Linked DNA regions of Homo sapiens. The protein of the gene in region 1 purifies or fractionates together with the protein of each later gene. This does not show direct contact. Each region holds a gene or a part of one and is shown in the gene's direction. Other genes may lie near its edges. The genes, in order: EPG5, VIPR1, USP8, OCIAD1, STX17 and CCKBR.

Region 1 (3,500 bases):
TCTTCCCCATTGAGTGGGGATGAGGAATCTGAAGGTAGTAACTGATTCCTAGCTCCAGGATGATGCCAGTGGACAAAATGAGAGTGAAACTCACCTTCTTAACTATAAGCAATGGAGAGTCCCTGATGTGTAACACAGAGCCCCCAAAGGAAGGGGGAGACGTCCTCTCAAGTTTGAGAGGGGATGGAGAAGACCATTAGATGCAACCCTATGGAGGCCAAAGTGATCATAAGCCATTTCATAGTGGCTTAGGAGAGATGGCAAGGAAGAAGAGGTTACTCTTGACAAGTTTGGCAGTGAAGGGAAGCTGGAGGGGATATTGGGGAGAAACATGTCATTCCCCTATCCCTAATCCTCATTCATTGGCAGACCTGTATATCTCTGTACATAGTAAGGAGGGAAATATTTGGAAATACTGTATTGAAGAAGAGAGGATAGAATCAAGAACACAGCTGGTGGAGTGTGTATTCTCTTGAGTAGAACTATGAAGAATGATGAGGGTAGATCCAGAGATGTTTTGAGATACCTTGAAGTTTTGGAGATATCACATTGGCTTCATATTCATAAAATAGAAGGTAAGATCATCAATCATGAAAGTCTTAGGGACAAGTTCTATTATTTTCTTGCAGCTTTCACTGCTGACTACTACTTTTTTTTTAGATGGAGTCTAGCTCTGTCGCCCAGGCTGGAGTGCAGTGGCGTAATCTTGGCCCACTGCAACCTCTACCTCCCGGGTTCAGGCAATTCTCCTGCTTCAGCCTCCCGAGTAGCTGGGATTATAGGCGCCCACCACCATGCCCAGCTAATTTTTATATTTTTAGTTAGAGACAGCATTTCACTGTGTTGGCCAGGCTGGTCTCAAACTCCTGACTTCGTGATCCACCTGCCTCGGCCTCCCAAAGTGGTGGGATTACAAGCATCAGCCACCGCGCCTGGCCCACTGCTGACTACTAGAGTTACTCTTCCCTTCTCTGAATTTGCGATGTATTTGTGATTGGCCTTCTGTTCCTTTGCACCTGATCATATATTTGCTGGTAATGTTCTCTACACAGTAATATGTCTCCTCACCATGATTATAAGCTCTTTGAAGATGGTACTGAAGCCTGTGTACCTTATACTTGCTGCCTGCTTACTTCAAATGGAAAGAGTAACTGGTTTCATATTGTACCTTTTTGTCCTCTGGTAGGGTATCTGTGCAGATCAAGTGAAAGTTTTCAGCTATCATCGCTACCAAAGAGTAGAAATGAATGAAAATGCACTGGTGGAGCTAAAGAAGCTATTCGATGCCAAATCTGAGCACCTCCACCAGACCCTGGCCCTTCATTCTTATACTTCTGTGCTCTCAAGATTGCAAGTGGAGTCTTACATCTATGCATTGCTCAGTAGTTCAGCTGTTCTGAGATCTTCAGCAATTCACCAGCAAGGCCGAGGTATGTAAGTAATGAAGCTCTCTTTCTTGTGTTTTGAAGTAAAAAAAAATTGAGGGGTATAGCCTGGTTGAATTGACTGTATAGTAATTGGTCTTACAAGGTACCATTTGTGCTTGCAGTTTTACCAGGCCTCCCCCACTGTAGGATTGAGATCTGCCTTAATGACATTTCTTGGGAGCATTGCCAGGTCTCCTTTCTCCGTGGCTGTCTTTCTCTGCTTCTCTAGGATGCCAAAAAGCTCACTATCTATCATTAATGTCCTTTGCTGTCCTAGTTAATGTGCTTGTTACCAAGTTGAGTCCAAATATAGTTTTTGATTATAAAAGTAATCATCGGAATACTTCTTCACCCTTTATCTCTTGTGGTTTGTTTGGGCTGCTTTGTTTGTAGGGCTGTTTTGTTTAATTTTCCAACAGAGGATTAATAATGTTCTGAATTTTTCATCTTATTTTGGATTTTAAGAAATTAGTCTTTATGACATGAATATTAAGTATGCTTGTTGAATTATGCAATTTTTATTTCTGGGGGATGTATTAGGGTACTTTAAAGTAAAATTCCCCCTCCCCCATTTTCTTAACTAATCAATTAACTGGGGGTAGGTCAGAGATGTACTGATTTTCAAATAAAAAATAGTGGATTATGGCCGGGTGTGGTGGCTCACACCTGTAATCCCAGCAATTTGGGAAGCTGAGGTGGGTGGATCACTTGAGGTCAGGAGTTCAAGATCAGCCTGGCCAATATGGTGAAACTCCTTCTCTACTAAAAATACAAAAACTAGCTGGGTGTAGTGGCAGGCACCAGTAATCCCAGCTACTCAAGAGGCTGAGGCAGGAGAATGGCATGAACGCAGGAAGCGGAGGTTGCAGTGAGTCAAGATTGCGCCACTGCATTCCAGCCTGGGTGACAGAGTGGAGGCTGTGTCAAAAAAAAAAAAAAAATTATGATGAGGTTGATTTTTCCATTATTTTGAAATACTTCAAAGTTAAACACATTTTTGACTTGTCTGTTTATAAAAATTTAAGTATTTTGATGTAACTTTTCTCCTTTTATCTGCACTAAATATTTTAAAGGTTTTTGTTGTTATTGGTTTAAGTGAAGACACTAAAAATTCCCCCAAAAACACCATTTATGAGAGACTCATTTAATATCTTTCATTTACAGCGTCTAAGCAGACAGAAAGCATTCCCTCTGATCTGTGTCAACTAAAGGAATGCATTAGTGTCTTATTCATGTTCACCAGGAGAGTTAATGAAGATACTCAGTTTCATGATGATATTCTTCTCTGGCTGCAGAAATTGGTAAGGGGACAGAGATAGACACAGTAGTCTTTGTTTTATTTCTTTCATAATTTAGGAATTATCTGTTATATCATTACATTTGGTCTTCAACTTTTTCAGCTAATTTATTTGATGAGTTTATTAATGACTTTTCTTTGATCATGATACATGGTAGTAAGTTATTTATCTAGTGCATTATTGAGCACAAAGTATGTTTCTCTCTAGTAAAGATTATGCTAAATGAACTCTGGACTTCAGCTTTGAAAGAAATGGAAATGCAGGAAGTATGCGAAATTGAAGACTAGATGTATATTCAGAATATAGGTACAGGTTGAGGATTCCTAATTCAGAAATCTGAAATGATCCAAAATTCCAAACTTTTTGAGTGCTGATACGATGCCACAAGTGGAAAATTCCACACCTAAGTACTTAATAGAAACTTTGTCTCAGGTACAGAATTACAAATGAATATTGTGTTCAGACTTATGTTTCAGCCCCAAATGTATTAGTCCTTTTTCATGCTGCTGATAAAGACATACCTGAGACTGGGAAGAAAAGGAGGTTTAGTTTGACTTACAGTTCCATATGGCTGAGGAGGTCTCAGAATCATGGTGGAGGGCAAAAGGCACTTCGTACATGGTGGTGGCAAGAGAGAATGAGGAAGAAGCAAGAGCAGAAACCCCTGATAAACCCATCAGATCTCGTGAGACTTATTCACTATCATGAGAATAGCATGGGAAAGACCGGCCCCCATGATTCAGTTACCTCCCACTGGGTCTCTCCCACAATGGAG
Region 2 (2,213 bases), on another chromosome or scaffold:
CTGTATTCTAGGATCCTCTCTGCCTCTTACCTCCTGCCATTCCAAGGCCTCCTTCTGAACCTGGCCTCAACCCAGTCCCAAGTTTGCACCGCCCGAGGCAGCATAGGGGTCCCTCCATTTTGATTTCCTAAAGAGAATAAGACTGGCTAGTTCAGAACCCTAAGTCCAGGGCAGCCCAATCAGCAGTGGAAGAGGCTCCACAGCAGTGGGCCTGACCACCTTCCCCTCTCCTAGGTGCAGGCGGAGCTGAGGCGGAAGTGGCGGCGCTGGCACCTGCAGGGCGTCCTGGGCTGGAACCCCAAATACCGGCACCCGTCGGGAGGCAGCAACGGCGCCACGTGCAGCACGCAGGTTTCCATGCTGACCCGCGTCAGCCCAGGTGCCCGCCGCTCCTCCAGCTTCCAAGCCGAAGTCTCCCTGGTCTGACCACCAGGATCCCAGGGGCCCAAGGCGGCCCCTCCCGCCCCTTCCCACTCACCCCGGCAGACGCCGGGGACAGAGGCCTGCCCGGGCGCGGCCAGCCCCGGCCCTGGGCTCGGAGGCTGCCCCCGGCCCCCTGGTCTCTGGTCCGGACACTCCTAGAGAACGCAGCCCTAGAGCCTGCCTGGAGCGTTTCTAGCAAGTGAGAGAGATGGGAGCTCCTCTCCTGGAGGATTGCAGGTGGAACTCAGTCATTAGACTCCTCCTCCAAAGGCCCCCTACGCCAATCAAGGGCAAAAAGTCTACATACTTTCATCCTGACTCTGCCCCCTGCTGGCTCTTCTGCCCAATTGGAGGAAAGCAACCGGTGGATCCTCAAACAACACTGGTGTGACCTGAGGGCAGAAAGGTTCTGCCCGGGAAGGTCACCAGCACCAACACCACGGTAGTGCCTGAAATTTCACCATTGCTGTCAAGTTCCTTTGGGTTAAGCATTACCACTCAGGCATTTGACTGAAGATGCAGCTCACTACCCTATTCTCTCTTTACGCTTAGTTATCAGCTTTTTAAAGTGGGTTATTCTGGAGTTTTTGTTTGGAGAGCACACCTATCTTAGTGGTTCCCCACCGAAGTGGACTGGCCCCTGGGTCAGTCTGGTGGGAGGACGGTGCAACCCAAGGACTGAGGGACTCTGAAGCCTCTGGGAAATGAGAAGGCAGCCACCAGCGAATGCTAGGTCTCGGACTAAGCCTACCTGCTCTCCAAGTCTCAGTGGCTTCATCTGTCAAGTGGGATCTGTCACACCAGCCATACTTATCTCTCTGTGCTGTGGAAGCAACAGGAATCAAGAGCTGCCCTCCTTGTCCACCCACCTATGTGCCAACTGTTGTAACTAGGCTCAGAGATGTGCACCCATGGGCTCTGACAGAAAGCAGATACCTCACCCTGCTACACATACAGGATTTGAACTCAGATCTGTCTGATAGGAATGTGAAAGCACGGACTCTTACTGCTAACTTTTGTGTATCGTAACCAGCCAGATCCTCTTGGTTATTTGTTTACCACTTGTATTATTAATGCCATTATCCCTGAATCCCCCTTGCCACCCCACCCTCCCTGGAGTGTGGCTGAGGAGGCCTCCATCTCATGTATCATCTGGATAGGAGCCTGCTGGTCACAGCCTCCTCTGTCTGCCCTTCACCCCAGTGGCCACTCAGCTTCCTACCCACACCTCTGCCAGAAGATCCCCTCAGGACTGCAACAGGCTTGTGCAACAATAAATGTTGGCTTGGATTGGCTTGGTTCCCCTGGTGGTTGATATTCTCATATGGCCTAAAATGGGACCAGCTTCCAACTTGGAGCCATCTTCCTCCACCCAAAGGATGGGTGATCTAATACATTACTGAAACCAGATGCCTCAACTCTTTTGGCTTTTGACAGAAATCCATATTTTCATATGAGGCATTCACAGTTCTGAGGGCCTTCAGCTCCCATCTTTTTGAGTGGTATCCTCTCTCCTCTGAGTGTGATGAAGACCAGGTCCCCATTGTGTCCCCCCACTCCTTAAATCCAGCCAAGAAAAGACCATTCTAATCTCAGATCAATACAAAACAGCTGGCAGAGCTGCCCAGGGTCCCAGAAATGGTTGAGTGTGAGTGTTTCACAGGCCGCAGACATTGCTGCAAACAAGGGTCTAGGATGACCATGTTGCAATTACCCAGGGCTCAGCTAAGAGGAGGTAGGTAGTGGACAAAACAAATGTCACCAACACAAGTTGAGTGAGCAGAGACAAT
Region 3 (3,500 bases), on another chromosome or scaffold:
GGGTGATAGAGTGAGACCTTGTCAATCAGTCAACCAGTAGTCGAATATTACCTAGCATTGCAAATGATGATATAGCTCTATAGTGATGAAAGATGTTCATAGAAAAGCAACATCATAAAGGTTTTATTGAAAACTCTCTATAAGAGTAAACTCCAGAATGTAAAGTGGTATTGGGGTGGTGAGGTTATGGGTCATTTTTGTTTTATATTTAGTAATTTATTTTCTAATTTTTCTTCTAAGATCATTGATTATTTGTATGGTTTTTAAAACCTCACCTATATAACCATTTCATTTAATGTTGAATTTTGAATTCAGTTCTCATTTTGTCATTATTTAGAAGATAAATTTTGTCCTTAAGGGAACAACTTTAAAATTTAGATTTGTTGTGTTTTTAGCTGTTGAAAGATTGCTGCCCTATTTAAAATATGATTTCCTTATTTATAGTGGGAAAGTAAAACTGTCCTGCGCAATGAGCCTTTGGTTTTAGAGGGAGGCTATGAAAACTGGCTCCTTTGTTATCCCCAGTATACAACAAATGCTAAGGTCACTCCACCCCCACGACGCCAGAATGAAGAGGTGTCTATCTCATGTATGTATGTGAAAATTTTTGTTTAAAATTGCTTTGGTAAAATATGGTTTAAAATTGTTTTCCCGGTAACATTCTTGGTTGTGTGTGTATTTGTCCTATTAGAGAGCAGTTTGTTTTCAGGCATAAAAATATAAGCCTGGAAGTTCACATTTTCTTTAAGACTGTTGTAATTGTTTTTTCACTTAGTTTACATTTAATTACTGCATTAACACGCATGAGAAATGTAAGTACTGTGTATGGGGTTTGCTATTCTAAAAAACATTTTTATTTTTGGAATTTTAGTGGATTTTACTTATCCCTCATTGGAAGAATCAATTCCTTCTAAACCTGCTGCCCAGACGCCACCTGCATCTATAGAAGTAGATGAAAATATAGAATTGATAAGTGGTCAAAATGAGAGAATGGGACCACTGAATATATCAACTCCAGTTGAACCAGTTGCTGCTTCTAAATCTGATGTTTCACCCATAATTCAGCCAGTGCCTAGTATAAAGAATGTTCCACAGGTATGTTCTTGATTTTAACATTATTCTCGCTTTTGTTTTAATATTAAATATATAGTATAGCTGGGCACAGTGCCTCACGCCTGTAATCCCAGCACTTTGGGAGGCTGAGAGGGGCAGATCACCTGAGGTCAGGAGTTTGAGACCAACCTGGCCAACATGGTGAAACCCCCCTCTCTACTAATAATACAAAAATTAGCTGGGCATGGTGGTGGGTGCCTATAAATCCAGCTGTTTGGGAGGCTGAGGCATGAGAATTGTCTGAACCCAGGAAGCGGAGGTTGCAGTGAGTCGAGATTGCACCACTGCACCCCAGCCTGGGTGACAGCAAGACTCTGTCTCAAAAAAAAAAAAAAGAATTAAATACATAGTATAGAAACGAAGTTTAATATATAACCTTTAACATCTTAGAAAAAAGTATCGATGAGAACAGTCTGTATGTTTTGATAAATTTTTTGTTTAAAAATTTTTCATCATAATTCAGCATTACCGCCACGCCTATATTAGAGTAGATAATTAAGGGGTTTCCAAGCCAGTTGGCGATCCATTTGCTACAAACAATGCCAATGAAAGATTGCATTATCACAGTGAATTAGAATAGCCCTTTTGGGATTTTTTGTATTATAATTTGACCCATATTATTTTCATAAATAGCTTGGCTTACATATGATAGGTATGTGATGTCAGTATTTTGGTTTTAAAACAGTGCTTTAGTTTCATTTCCTTAGAATTTGACACGCAAATAACAGGCATGTTTAACAATAATCATGTAAAAGTTTTTAAATAACCAAGACATTACAAATAAAAAAATTTTAGTTTTTATATCCTTCATTTGGCTTTATTTAAAGAAAGGTTAACTAATGTTCCCCCTCCATGCATTTCCCAATAACATTTTTTAGCATTCATTTTTAATTTTTTCCCCAGATATATTTAAAACAGTATTTCACATTTAAAGTGGATGACGTTTGATTTGTGGAGCAGGTATTGAATAGAAAATCTGGTAATTTTTTGTTATAAACTGAAGTGGTTCATTTCTTCATTTTTTTAAGGTCTTTTAGTATTGCAGAATAAATTGCAGACTAAATAGATGTGATTAAACAACTTTTCTTAAAGGGTGAATTTAGGAAAGTCTAAAAAGAGCTTCTCTATGTTATTGCATTTCCTTTCAACTTAATCTATTTAAACGCTAATCCTTTTGTGTCCCAACATAACTTTATGAGATACGTACAATTTTCAGACATATTTTGAAGATCTTCTATATAAAAAACAGCATGAGGGCTGGGTGCCATGGCTCGTGCCTGTAATCCCAACACTTTAGGAGGCGGAGGCAGGTGGGTCACCTGAGGTCAGGAGTTCCAGACCAGCCTGGTCAACATGGTGAAACCCCATCTCTACTGAAAATACCAAAATTAGCCAGGCGTGGTGGTGCGTGCCTGCAGTCCCAGCTACTCAGGAGGCTGAGGCAGGAGAATCACATGAACCCAGGAAGCAGAGTTGTAGTGAGCCGAGATCAGGCCACTGCACTCCAGCCTGGGTGAGAGTGAGACTCTGTCTCAAAAAAAAATAAAAATAAAAATAAGACAGCATGAAAGTTTGTATATACAAGAGATGGGTTCTTCTGATGTTTGGAAGGAGAGATCTGTATAAAATCAGCCACAGCATAAGGCAGAATATCATAATTGCTCTACAAGGCACTGGAGCACAGAGCAAGGAGAATATTCTAGCTGAGAAGATCAAGGACGTCTTCATGGAGGAGACAGTATTTTATCTGGGCTTTAAGAGTAGGATTGGAGGATAGAAGAAACAAGTAGAAAATTCTATGACCAAAGGCATAGGGCATGCTCTGGGGCCAGTGAACAGTTTTGGCATATGTGGGCGCTAGTCTCTGTTGGAGAGAGGAAGTTATGATAGTAGATAAGATTAGAAGGATGGACAAGAGTCATCAAGAGAGACTTGGATCAAATTTGAATTTTGTCCTGTAGGCACAAGGAACCATTAAAGAATTTTAAACTTGAGAGTAACATGATCATAACTATACTTTTAAAATTAGGGAAAAATAGATCAAGCCACCAAAATGTAAATGGAAACAACATTTATTTTTGTTTCTGTTCCACCTCTTATTGTTAACCTCATCCCCATAGTGGTTCTTCCTACTTTATTCTCAAATACATGCAAAAAAAAAGACAAAGGATTTTTTTTAAGAGGCAGAAAGAGAAGTGAACAGGAAAAAAATTATTTTTTCTACACTAACCTCGTTTTCTTTTTCTTTTCTTTTTTTTTTGAAAACGGTCTCACTCTCTCACCCAGGCTGGAGTGCAGTGGCGTGATCACAGCTCACTGCAGCCTCGACTTCCTGGGTTCAAGCAATCCTCCCACCTCAGCCTCCTGAGTAGCTGGGATTATAGGCA
Region 4 (3,500 bases), on another chromosome or scaffold:
TCACTATTTAACAAAGAATTGGTATTGCTTTACTTGGAAACTGTAGTCCTTTCAGGTAAAAAGGAGGATGAATTTTTTTTTGTTTTTGTTTTTGTTTTTTTGAGATGGAGCTTCGCTCTTGTTGCCCAGGCTGGAGTACAATGGTGTGATCTCAGCTCACTGCAACTTCTGCCTCCTGGGTTCAAGCGATTCTCCTGCCTCAGCCTCCTGAGTAGCTGGGATTACAGGCATGTGCAACCATGCCCAGCAAATTTTTCTATTTCTAGTAGAAGCGGGATTTCACCATGTTGGCCAGGCTGGTCTTGAACTCCTGACCTTAGGTGATCTGCCTTGGCCTCCCAAAGTGCTGGGATTATAGGCGTGAGCCACCATGCCTGGCAAATTTTTTTTTAAAAAAGGCAACTTGGCACGGTGCCTCATGGCTATAATTGCAGCACTTTGGGAGGCTGAGGCAGGAGGATTGCTTGAGCCCAGAAGTTCAAGACCAGCGTGGGCAACATAGAGGGGCCTTGTCTCTACCAAAAATGAAAGAAATTAGCTGGGTGTGGTGATACGTAGCTGTAATCGCAACCATTTGGGAGGCTGAGGCTGAGGTAGGAGGATCCCTTGAGCTGGGTACATAGAGGCTGCTGCAGTGAGCTATGATCACATCACTGCATTCCAGCCTGGGTGACAGAGCCAGACCCTGTCTCAAAGAAAAGAAAAAAAGGGCAACTTAAGCCATTAAGGAGGATGTATGTTTTCATCAGTCAGCCTGATATGTATGCTTAAAATGTGCAAGGTACCTGTTGGGAAGATAAGTTTTATGAAAGACAGACTTTGTCCTGAATTAATTTTCTTTTTTGTTTGTTTGTTTTTGTTTTTGAGACGGAGTCTCACTCTCTTCCCCAGGCTGGAGTGCAGTGGTGTGATCTCTGCTCACGTCAACATCCTTCTCCTGGGTTCAAGTGATTCTCCTGCCACAGTGTCCTGAGTATCTGGGACTACAGGCGTGCGCCACCATGCCCGGCTAATTTTTGTATTTTCAGTAGAGACTGGGTTTCACTATGTTGGCCAGGCTGATCTCGAACTCCTGACCTCAGTTGATTCACCTGCCTTGGCCTCCGAAAGTGCTGGGATTACAGGTGTGAGCCACTGCGCCTGGCCCTGAAGTAGTTTTATATGTGGTGAGACAAAGCTAATACATGAAACACTTAGAGATTAAGTGTGTAACTGCAGAAGACTTTTTAAAGAGATAAATTAATTAGAATTGACTTACTGAAATTGAAAAATTTGAATAACTTTTGAGATTTTAAAACTCAAAATTTTCTCAAAATTTTACCAAATTTCAATTTGGTAAAAACTGAAGCCTCTTACAATTTTACAGTTGTGTTTTTCTGTAACATAAGGTGGAATACCTGAGTTGGAAAAAGACCTTTATTTGTTAAGCAAACAATACTTTAACAACTTTATAATAGTACTGTAGGCCAGGTATGGTGGCTCACACCTGTAATCCCAGCACCTTGGTTTTGTTTTGTTTTTTATTTTTGTAGATACTAGGTTTTGCCATGTTGCCCAGGCTAATCTTGAACCCCTGAGTTCAAGCGATCTGCCTGCCTTGGCCTCCCCAAATGGTGGAATTTCAAGCATGAGCCACTGAACCTGGCCCCAGCACATTGGGTGGTTGAGGCAGGAGGATCGCCTGAGACCAGGAGTTTGAGACCAGCCTTGGCAACATAGTGAGACCCTGTCCCTAATCCCCCAACAACAACAACAAAAGAATTAATAGTTAATAAGTAGATAAGTGAAGAGGAAAGGTGGAGTAGCATTTGGAAGAAAGGAGTAGTGAACAAAGGCAGAGTTTGCAATAACTTCATCTCTGCTGGAGCGGTGAGCCTGAATTGATTGGAACAGAGGTCTTTCATTGAGGATAGAACGTAAAACATAGTAATGAGTTAAAGGTTTGATCCATTATATCGTTTAGGTTCTTGAGCAGAGGGGGGTGATATGTAAGGTTTTTTTTAAGGAAGGTTAGTTAACAGTGTGCAAGATGGGTAGAAGGGTGAGAAGTTGTACTTGGTAAAATCTGTTTTGAGCTTTTGGCAGTAACTTAGGCATATATATGTAGTCAACGATGAGATATAGTTGATTAGTGTGTCATTTGGACTGGAAAAGATGAGCTGGCAACGAAAGACTTTTTAAAGGACAAATAAAAGGATTTTTTAAAAAGTTCGACTAAGGGGGAATGAAGGAATGGTAAGAGGGAGGTAATAGCTTTAAGATAACCAGCTTAGGAGACTCAATGATACCTCTGAATAAAAGGTTCATTTAGAAGGAGTTCTTGTTTGAAGATGAGTTTAGTTCAGACGTTTTGAGTTCATGGTGCAACATTCGATTGTCGAAGATTTCTAAGCAACTACAGATAGAAACAAAAGCATACATGAAAAATTAGTTTATTGTGGAGTTGTGTTGGTGAATTCGCCAATAAATTAAGTGTAGAGATAAAAGCATAAAACTGATAATAGTTTCTGCCCTGTGATTAATACTTAGGATTGATAGAATAAAGGATAAAGTTTGGATAGTACCCATGGATAAGGGAACAAGTGATAGTGAAAGAATCAACAAAGACCAAGAGCAGTTAGGAAGATAGAGGAGCTCTGATAGAATCTTTGTCATTTTATCCACCAATATTCAGAGACTTGCAGGTATTTCAAGCTAGAAAGAACCTGAATAAGAATTAGGTGATGATGTCCATTTTAAATTTATGATGACTATGCATCTAAAACAGTTATTCTCAACTGGGAGCAGAATAACTGGAACGAGTTGAGAATAATTGTTATAGATGCATAGTCATCATAAAGTAAGGGCTTCTATAAAATTTTCATGGCTCATTAGAATGGGAATAATTTCTTTCTTTTTTTTTGAGACGGAGTCTCGCTCTATCCCCCAGGCTGGAGTACGGTGGTGCAATCTTGGCTCACTGCAAGCTCCGCCTCCTGGGTTCATACCATTCTCCTGCCTCAGCCTCCCGAGTAGCTGGGATTACAGGCGCCTGCCACCATACCTGGCTATTTTTTTTTGTATTTTTACTAGAGATGGGGTTTCACCGTGTTAACCAGGATGGTCTCCATCTCCTGACCTTGTGATCCACCTGCCTCGGCCTCCCAAAGTGCTGGGATTACAGACGTAAGCCATCGTTTTTTTTTTTTTGTTTTTTTTTCTTTTTTCGGTGTTCTTTTTTTTGTGACTGGGTTTCACTCTTGTTGCCCAGGCTGGAATGCAATGGCACAGTCTTGGCTCACTGCAACCCCTGCCTCCTGGGTTCAAGCAATTCTCCTGCCTCAGCTTCCCAAGTAGCTGGGCTTATAGGCGCCTGCCACCATGCTCAGCTAATTTTTGTATTTTTGGTAGAGAAGGAGTTTCACCATGTTGGCCAGGCTGGTCTCGAGCTCCTGACCTTGTGATCTGCCCACCTCGGCCTCACAAAGTTCTGGGATTACAAGCATGAGCCACTGTGCCTG
Region 5 (3,500 bases), on another chromosome or scaffold:
TGCTTATGTTCCATATTCTGAATATTTTCTTGAAATGTGTTACCTAAAATTGAATGCAGTAAATTGTTTGAATTGCTTCTGGATGCCTCTAAGTTAGAAGAAGCAAAATATTTGAAGTTTCTGGATTAGGTATCTGTACAATATTAATATACTCGCAAACAGAAGGAAATAATAGAACAAGAATCCCAAAATATCTGTTGTTTCAGAATCAACATTTATTCAACTATTGTAAACTAATAATCTCTGAATCCAGTGCAGTTTGTAAAACCTATACATGTATGGTTACACAAATATATACACTTGCCAAAAGTCATTGGTCTGTACACATAAAATGTGTTTTAATATATGTAAATTATACCTCAATAAAGCTGATTTTAAAAAACAAACTACACATGTACAAAGTTCTTACTCAGTACAAACACATTTCTTTTCTACTGGGATAGGCACATAAAAGAAATATTAAAGGTCTGTGACCATAAGATAGTTACATGTTTGATTATATTATGTAAGCAGCTCATAACCTCTAATCTAAGGGAGATTTGTGTAGGAAAACTCTGGCTGTAGCCACAGCTCTATACAAATGTCCTGTTTGTAATAATCTGTTTAAGTACATGAGACAGAATGCTAATAAGCAAAAGCTCAAAGGAGAACCCCTGATTATTATTCCCAGGGTGACTAAGTTCTCATGACCACATGGCCAAGGATTCACAGAAGCTCTATTTAGGCACAGAATGACCTAGGAACATAACCAGAGTGACCACATCCTCTCATTATCATCACATGGACATGATAGTGTCTAGACAAATTAACCATGTATTTAAGGAACACTTTCTATCTGCGTAGCACTGTGCTAAGCTTAATGAGGAATAGAAAAAAGCATTTAAAAAACTTACAAGATAGTAATAGTGGTTGCACAATATTGTGAAGTTACTTATTGCCACTAAATTGTACACTTCAAAATGGTTAAAATGGTAAATTTATGTTATATTTATTTTACCACTATAAAAAGAACTTACAAAGCCATTGACAGATCAAGGTATAGTACAATAAATGTTAATAAATTAATATCTACTAGGTACCCTGCTCTATTTTTCTTCAGCCTTTGTTGTTCAAGTGCCCTCTTCTCTCCCTATAACTTTGTAACTAGCCCTATTTCTAGTCAAGGAGAATTTAAAGAACCCTGGGCCAGTAGTTCAGTAACAACTCACCCTTGCTGCTAGTCTGTTTTGACTTCTGCCTTTTGCCTTATTCCCTGTCGTTTTTGTAATCCAGTTTTACTCTGGAAACATAAAAACTGGTTGCAATGGATTAGATCAGATTCCTTCATTTATTACCTATGTGACCTTCAGGATGTTATTTGACAACAATGAGCTTTATAACACTGATGGGAGGACTAAATGAGGTAATGTGTATTATTAAGTACTTCCCATTCTGTTCCCTTCCACTGACCCCAACTGCATTCCCACTTTTGTCCTTCCTTTATTTTCATTCCTTGTTTGGCTCCTTGCAAAAATTCTACTTTTTCCACCACTATTATCCTTAGGCATTTTAGTACTGGAATTCCTTCAGTCCCTTTCCAACTGCTGAATCCTCTGTTAGCAACATCCTACTTATCTACTCTGCTTATTGCTTACTCGAAGCCAATATAATCACTTATTTTGCCTATATATCATAGTATTTATAAGTTTGTTTCTGGGCCTTTTTGTGTATATGATTGCATATGATTAAGGAGTATATAGAATATATCATAGGAGTTTAGAACCAGAATAGCTCAATGTGAACAGGATTGGTCAAGATCTAAGATTAGAACTTGGCCTTGAAGGCTGGCTGGAATTTAGAGAGGAATAAATGGACGTACCTGGAGTTTTGGTATTACCCTCTTAAATAAACTCGTAGCTTTCCAAGAACCTTAAACTTTACAACTACTATCAGAACTCTCTATGGAAGACCACTGTTAATGATATAAATGGATTTGGGGGTTAATTTTTGAATGTATTATTATTGCTTGACATAGAGGATGCTAGGCCTACAAGTGTCCCCAACAGGCATTCAAGAACAAAACAGTTCATTGGTTTTGAATTTATATTCCCAAATTGCATTCTGCTTGACAAGTATAATAAATCACAGTTTATACAGAAACTTAGGTACTCCTATAGCTGTTCGTCAAGATTTGTTATGTTCAGGCCAATAGGGGGACTTAATTCAATGTTCTTTAAAATGAAATCCGTAGACATATTCTTAGAGTCATTTGAGAATTTTCTTTTTCTGTAAAAGGAGGTCAGTATATTACTCTAGCTTGAGAAACACTGCAGTGTAATGAGCTAAACACTTAAATATGGTTTAGCTCATTGTTAAAGGAATGCTGAGAACATATATGGGGTGCCAAACTATAAAATGGCAGGTATGGAATTTGAAGATTGTCAAATGTGGGAGGCCTAAGCAGATGAAAATAAACATGAGCAAATCAGAAGCAAAACCTCAGGGGAGATTGATAGATAGAGGTTAGGAGGCTCCTGCACCACCATTAATGTTTAGAGCTTGATTTCACAGGCTGGGGCAGGGTTGTATATGTATCTTTTGGTCCCACAAAAAGAGCCAAGGACATAGTGGACAGGTAGTGACCCAATTCAGCTCTGTATGGAGTCTGGTTTGGCATTCTGCTGATGGTAATTGACAACTCTGTGACAATAGTTTGCTGCCTAACTGTAACCTTTGTGGGGGTCAGTGAGTCCTCCTTACTCAAGAAGCAGAATTTGAAGATATGGGCAAAGTTTGAAGTTGCAAACCAAGCAAAATACGGACAAGAGAAAGGCAGACGTGCACAATCGAGGGGTGATTATTGATCCCAGGATAGGGGCTGTCTGCCCTCTGCCTTATTCCCACACCCCAGCCCCATATCTTAGCATGCTTTCTGATGGCATGAATAAATACTTATAGATGTGGGCTACTCCCCAGGGTGGGATGGGCCTCATCAAATGCTGGTGATTGCAATGATGGGGAACTTTGTAGTTCAAATAATTAGTGATCTCAGGATTGGTTTTTTGCCTGTGGTTGCTTCTTCAGTTATTCCAAATGATTTTTATGAAAAAATATTTAAATTATTTTAAAATTTTGCTTTAATTTTTAAAAAGTCATAGAAGTACAATATCCAACCCTTTTTAAAGGAAGGAACATTAGAAAGTATTTCCCTGAGGCTTTACGATTACACTTGGGGTATAGAAATGGCAATAATCCTGGCAGGCTCCTCCCTCTTGCTGGAATTATTTTGGGGCTGAAGGAAGGGAGACACTGACTATTTTTCCTCTACCTTTCAACTCATCAACATATGACGGCTGATGGTAGAGTTTTAAGCCTGTGATTTATCTGCTAGCATAGACTGTTTCAGGCAAGAGTGGAAAGTGTTGGGGGTGTCCTAAATAGAAACAATGATAGGGTGTCAGAAATCTAGACAAGTTGTATATTATTAGTGCTGGAACTTTTTCTTCTATGGGTCAGAAAAA
Region 6 (2,790 bases), on another chromosome or scaffold:
CATGCCCTTCACCCTCCTGCCCAATCTCATGGGCACATTCATCTTTGGCACCGTCATCTGCAAGGCGGTTTCCTACCTCATGGGTGGGTGAGACAACCACCCCACCCCCACTTGCCACTCTCCCCGCCTAAAGCTCTTGTGGATGTAGGGGTCTTCCCCGGTTGGCAGGGAGGGGTGTGAGGAAGTCCCACTGATGCTTGTGTAGTGCAAGTTTCCTAGGTGACTCCTTCCTTTCTCTTCCCTTGTTTAGGGGTGTCTGTGAGTGTGTCCACGCTAAGCCTCGTGGCCATCGCACTGGAGCGGTACAGCGCCATCTGCCGACCACTGCAGGCACGAGTGTGGCAGACGCGCTCCCACGCGGCTCGCGTGATTGTAGCCACGTGGCTGCTGTCCGGACTACTCATGGTGCCCTACCCCGTGTACACTGTCGTGCAACCAGTGGGGCCTCGTGTGCTGCAGTGCGTGCATCGCTGGCCCAGTGCGCGGGTCCGCCAGACCTGGTGAGCTTGCCCATAAACTATCCTAGGAATTCCTTTCTCACCCCTATTAGATGCTTACGACCATTGCCCAGAATCTTCCTCCAGCTTCCCGGAGAATTACCACGCCAACTCCTATTCTGCATCCACCACCCTGGAGTTCCAGTTTGGGGCCCCTCCCCAGTTCTCTCTCCCTTCCCAGCGGCACCCCCAAATCCTACTCCTACTTCAGGTACCTGGCCACAGCCCTAGAAACACTAGTCCTTGGCTTTTTCTCCATCTGTGATTACAGCTGGACAGAAACCCGAGTGATCTGTCTGTGTTGCCTTCAGGTCCGTACTGCTGCTTCTGCTCTTGTTCTTCATCCCGGGTGTGGTTATGGCCGTGGCCTACGGGCTTATCTCTCGCGAGCTCTACTTAGGGCTTCGCTTTGACGGCGACAGTGACAGCGACAGCCAAAGCAGGGTCCGAAACCAAGGCGGGCTGCCAGGTGGGGCTGGACCACGTGAGCAAAATCTGGGCGAGGCGGAGCTTTGGAGGGCGACGGGGCCTGCTGGAGTGGGTGGGACTGAAATGAAGGTGAGGGTGAGAAGGAAGCTGGAAATGGAGTTGAGCTGGGAGCGGAGGTCAGGTGGGGACTGGGCTGGAGACTGGGGGGACTCGCCTTTTTCTCTGACCGCCCACCCTTTGTGCTCAGGGGCTGTTCACCAGAACGGGCGTTGCCGGCCTGAGACTGGCGCGGTTGGCGAAGACAGCGATGGCTGCTACGTGCAACTTCCACGTTCCCGGCCTGCCCTGGAGCTGACGGCGCTGACGGCTCCTGGGCCGGGATCCGGCTCCCGGCCCACCCAGGCCAAGCTGCTGGCTAAGAAGCGCGTGGTGCGAATGTTGCTGGTGATCGTTGTGCTTTTTTTTCTGTGTTGGTTGCCAGTTTATAGTGCCAACACGTGGCGCGCCTTTGATGGCCCGGGTGCACACCGAGCACTCTCGGGTGCTCCTATCTCCTTCATTCACTTGCTGAGCTACGCCTCGGCCTGTGTCAACCCCCTGGTCTACTGCTTCATGCACCGTCGCTTTCGCCAGGCCTGCCTGGAAACTTGCGCTCGCTGCTGCCCCCGGCCTCCACGAGCTCGCCCCAGGGCTCTTCCCGATGAGGACCCTCCCACTCCCTCCATTGCTTCGCTGTCCAGGCTTAGCTACACCACCATCAGCACACTGGGCCCTGGCTGAGGAGTAGAGGGGCCGTGGGGGTTGAGGCAGGGCAAATGACATGCACTGACCCTTCCAGACATACGAAACACAAACCACAACTGACACAGGAAACCAACACCCAAAGCATGGACTAACCCCAACGCACAGGAAAAGGTAGCTTACCTGACACAAGAGGAATAAGAATGGAGCAGTACATGGGAAAGGAGGCATGCCTCTGATATGGGACTGAGCCTGGCCCATAGAAACATGACACTGACCTTGGAGAGACACAGCGTCCCTAGCAGTGAACTATTTCTACACAGTGGGAACTCTGACAAGGGCTGACCTGCCTCTCACACACATAGATTAATGGCACTGATTGTTTTAGAGACTATGGAGCCTGGCACAGGACTGATTCTGGGATGCTCCTAGTTTGACCTCACAGTGACCCTTCCCAATCAGCACTGAAAATACCATCAGGCCTAATCTCATACCTCTGACCAACAGGCTGTTCTGCACTGAAAAGGTTCTTCATCCCTTTCCAGTTAAGGACCGTGGCCCTGCCCTCTCCTTCCTTACCCAAACTGTTCAAGAAATAATAAATTGTTTGGCTTCCTCCTGAACTTCCTTTCTGGATTCTTCTGGGGCAGGTGAGGAGGCATAGGATTTTGCAGTATCCTTCTGTCGGGTCTCTCCCACTGTTGCACACTGCTGTGCACAACCCCTTGCCAGAAAGCCCAGCCTCTGAGGTTCAGCGTGGCTGTGCATATTCTTTCTGAGTTTTCATCCTCTACCTACATTCCAATGTTGCAATAACTGTGAATGGGGATGGAAAATGGCATATCCATGACATATCATGATTCCTGATCACATTATCCCAAAGTGGTGCCACTGTTAAGGTACTATATTAATGGATGCTTATTAAATTTTGATGAAAAGATAAAAGAGGAAGCACTGTATAATAAGACTAAGTTTATTCAATGTGTGTTTGAAACACCAGAGATCAGACCATGACAGGTATACAGAATGAATACAGTTAATTAAAGAGTAGGGATTTTTTGCTGTACTCTCTTCCCCAGTGTCAAAACCTGGCCAAGATTCTGCCAAATGGAAGCACTTTTAG

What was found.
Region 2: the proteins of EPG5 (region 1) and VIPR1 purify together in Homo sapiens (co-immunoprecipitation; one large-scale study listed by IntAct). This does not show direct contact.
Region 3: the proteins of EPG5 (region 1) and USP8 purify together in Homo sapiens (affinity purification with western blotting; one study listed by BioGRID). This does not show direct contact.
Region 4: the proteins of EPG5 (region 1) and OCIAD1 purify together in Homo sapiens (co-immunoprecipitation; one large-scale study listed by IntAct). This does not show direct contact.
Region 5: the proteins of EPG5 (region 1) and STX17 purify together in Homo sapiens (affinity purification with western blotting, with the first as the bait; one study listed by BioGRID). This does not show direct contact.
Region 6: the proteins of EPG5 (region 1) and CCKBR purify together in Homo sapiens (co-immunoprecipitation; one large-scale study listed by IntAct). This does not show direct contact.

The regions. Positions count from the first base shown.
Region 1 is NC_000018.10:45,950,330-45,953,829, reverse strand, and holds part of EPG5 (ectopic P granules protein 5 homolog), read left to right. Parts: exon of another isoform or gene 1-575; intron 576-1,186; coding exon 1,187-1,430; intron 1,431-2,591; coding exon 2,592-2,728; intron 2,729-3,500. UniProt on the Homo sapiens protein: Involved in autophagy. May play a role in a late step of autophagy, such as clearance of autophagosomal cargo.
Region 2 is NC_000003.12:42,535,856-42,538,068, forward strand, and holds the end of VIPR1 (vasoactive intestinal polypeptide receptor 1 isoform 1 precursor), read left to right. Parts: intron 1-234; coding exon 235-426; 3' UTR 427-1,713; downstream 1,714-2,213. UniProt on the Homo sapiens protein: G protein-coupled receptor activated by the neuropeptides vasoactive intestinal peptide (VIP) and pituitary adenylate cyclase-activating polypeptide (ADCYAP1/PACAP).
Region 3 is NC_000015.10:50,476,405-50,479,904, forward strand, and holds part of USP8 (ubiquitin carboxyl-terminal hydrolase 8), read left to right. Parts: intron 1-444; coding exon 445-589; intron 590-871; coding exon 872-1,095; intron 1,096-3,500. UniProt on the Homo sapiens protein: Hydrolase that can remove conjugated ubiquitin from proteins and therefore plays an important regulatory role at the level of protein turnover by preventing degradation. Converts both 'Lys-48' an 'Lys-63'-linked ubiquitin chains.
Region 4 is NC_000004.12:48,834,088-48,837,587, forward strand, and holds part of OCIAD1 (OCIA domain-containing protein 1), read left to right. Parts: intron 1-3,500. UniProt on the Homo sapiens protein: Maintains stem cell potency. Increases STAT3 phosphorylation and controls ERK phosphorylation. May act as a scaffold, increasing STAT3 recruitment onto endosomes. Involved in integrin-mediated cancer cell adhesion and colony formation in ovarian cancer.
Region 5 is NC_000009.12:99,962,154-99,965,653, forward strand, and holds part of STX17 (syntaxin-17), read left to right. Parts: intron 1-3,500. UniProt on the Homo sapiens protein: SNAREs, soluble N-ethylmaleimide-sensitive factor-attachment protein receptors, are essential proteins for fusion of cellular membranes.
Region 6 is NC_000011.10:6,269,838-6,272,627, forward strand, and holds the end of CCKBR (gastrin/cholecystokinin type B receptor), read left to right. Parts: coding exon 1-83; intron 84-250; coding exon 251-500; intron 501-808; coding exon 809-966; coding exon of another isoform or gene 967-1,173; coding exon 1,174-1,706; 3' UTR 1,707-2,290; downstream 2,291-2,790. UniProt on the Homo sapiens protein: Receptor for gastrin and cholecystokinin. The CCK-B receptors occur throughout the central nervous system where they modulate anxiety, analgesia, arousal, and neuroleptic activity.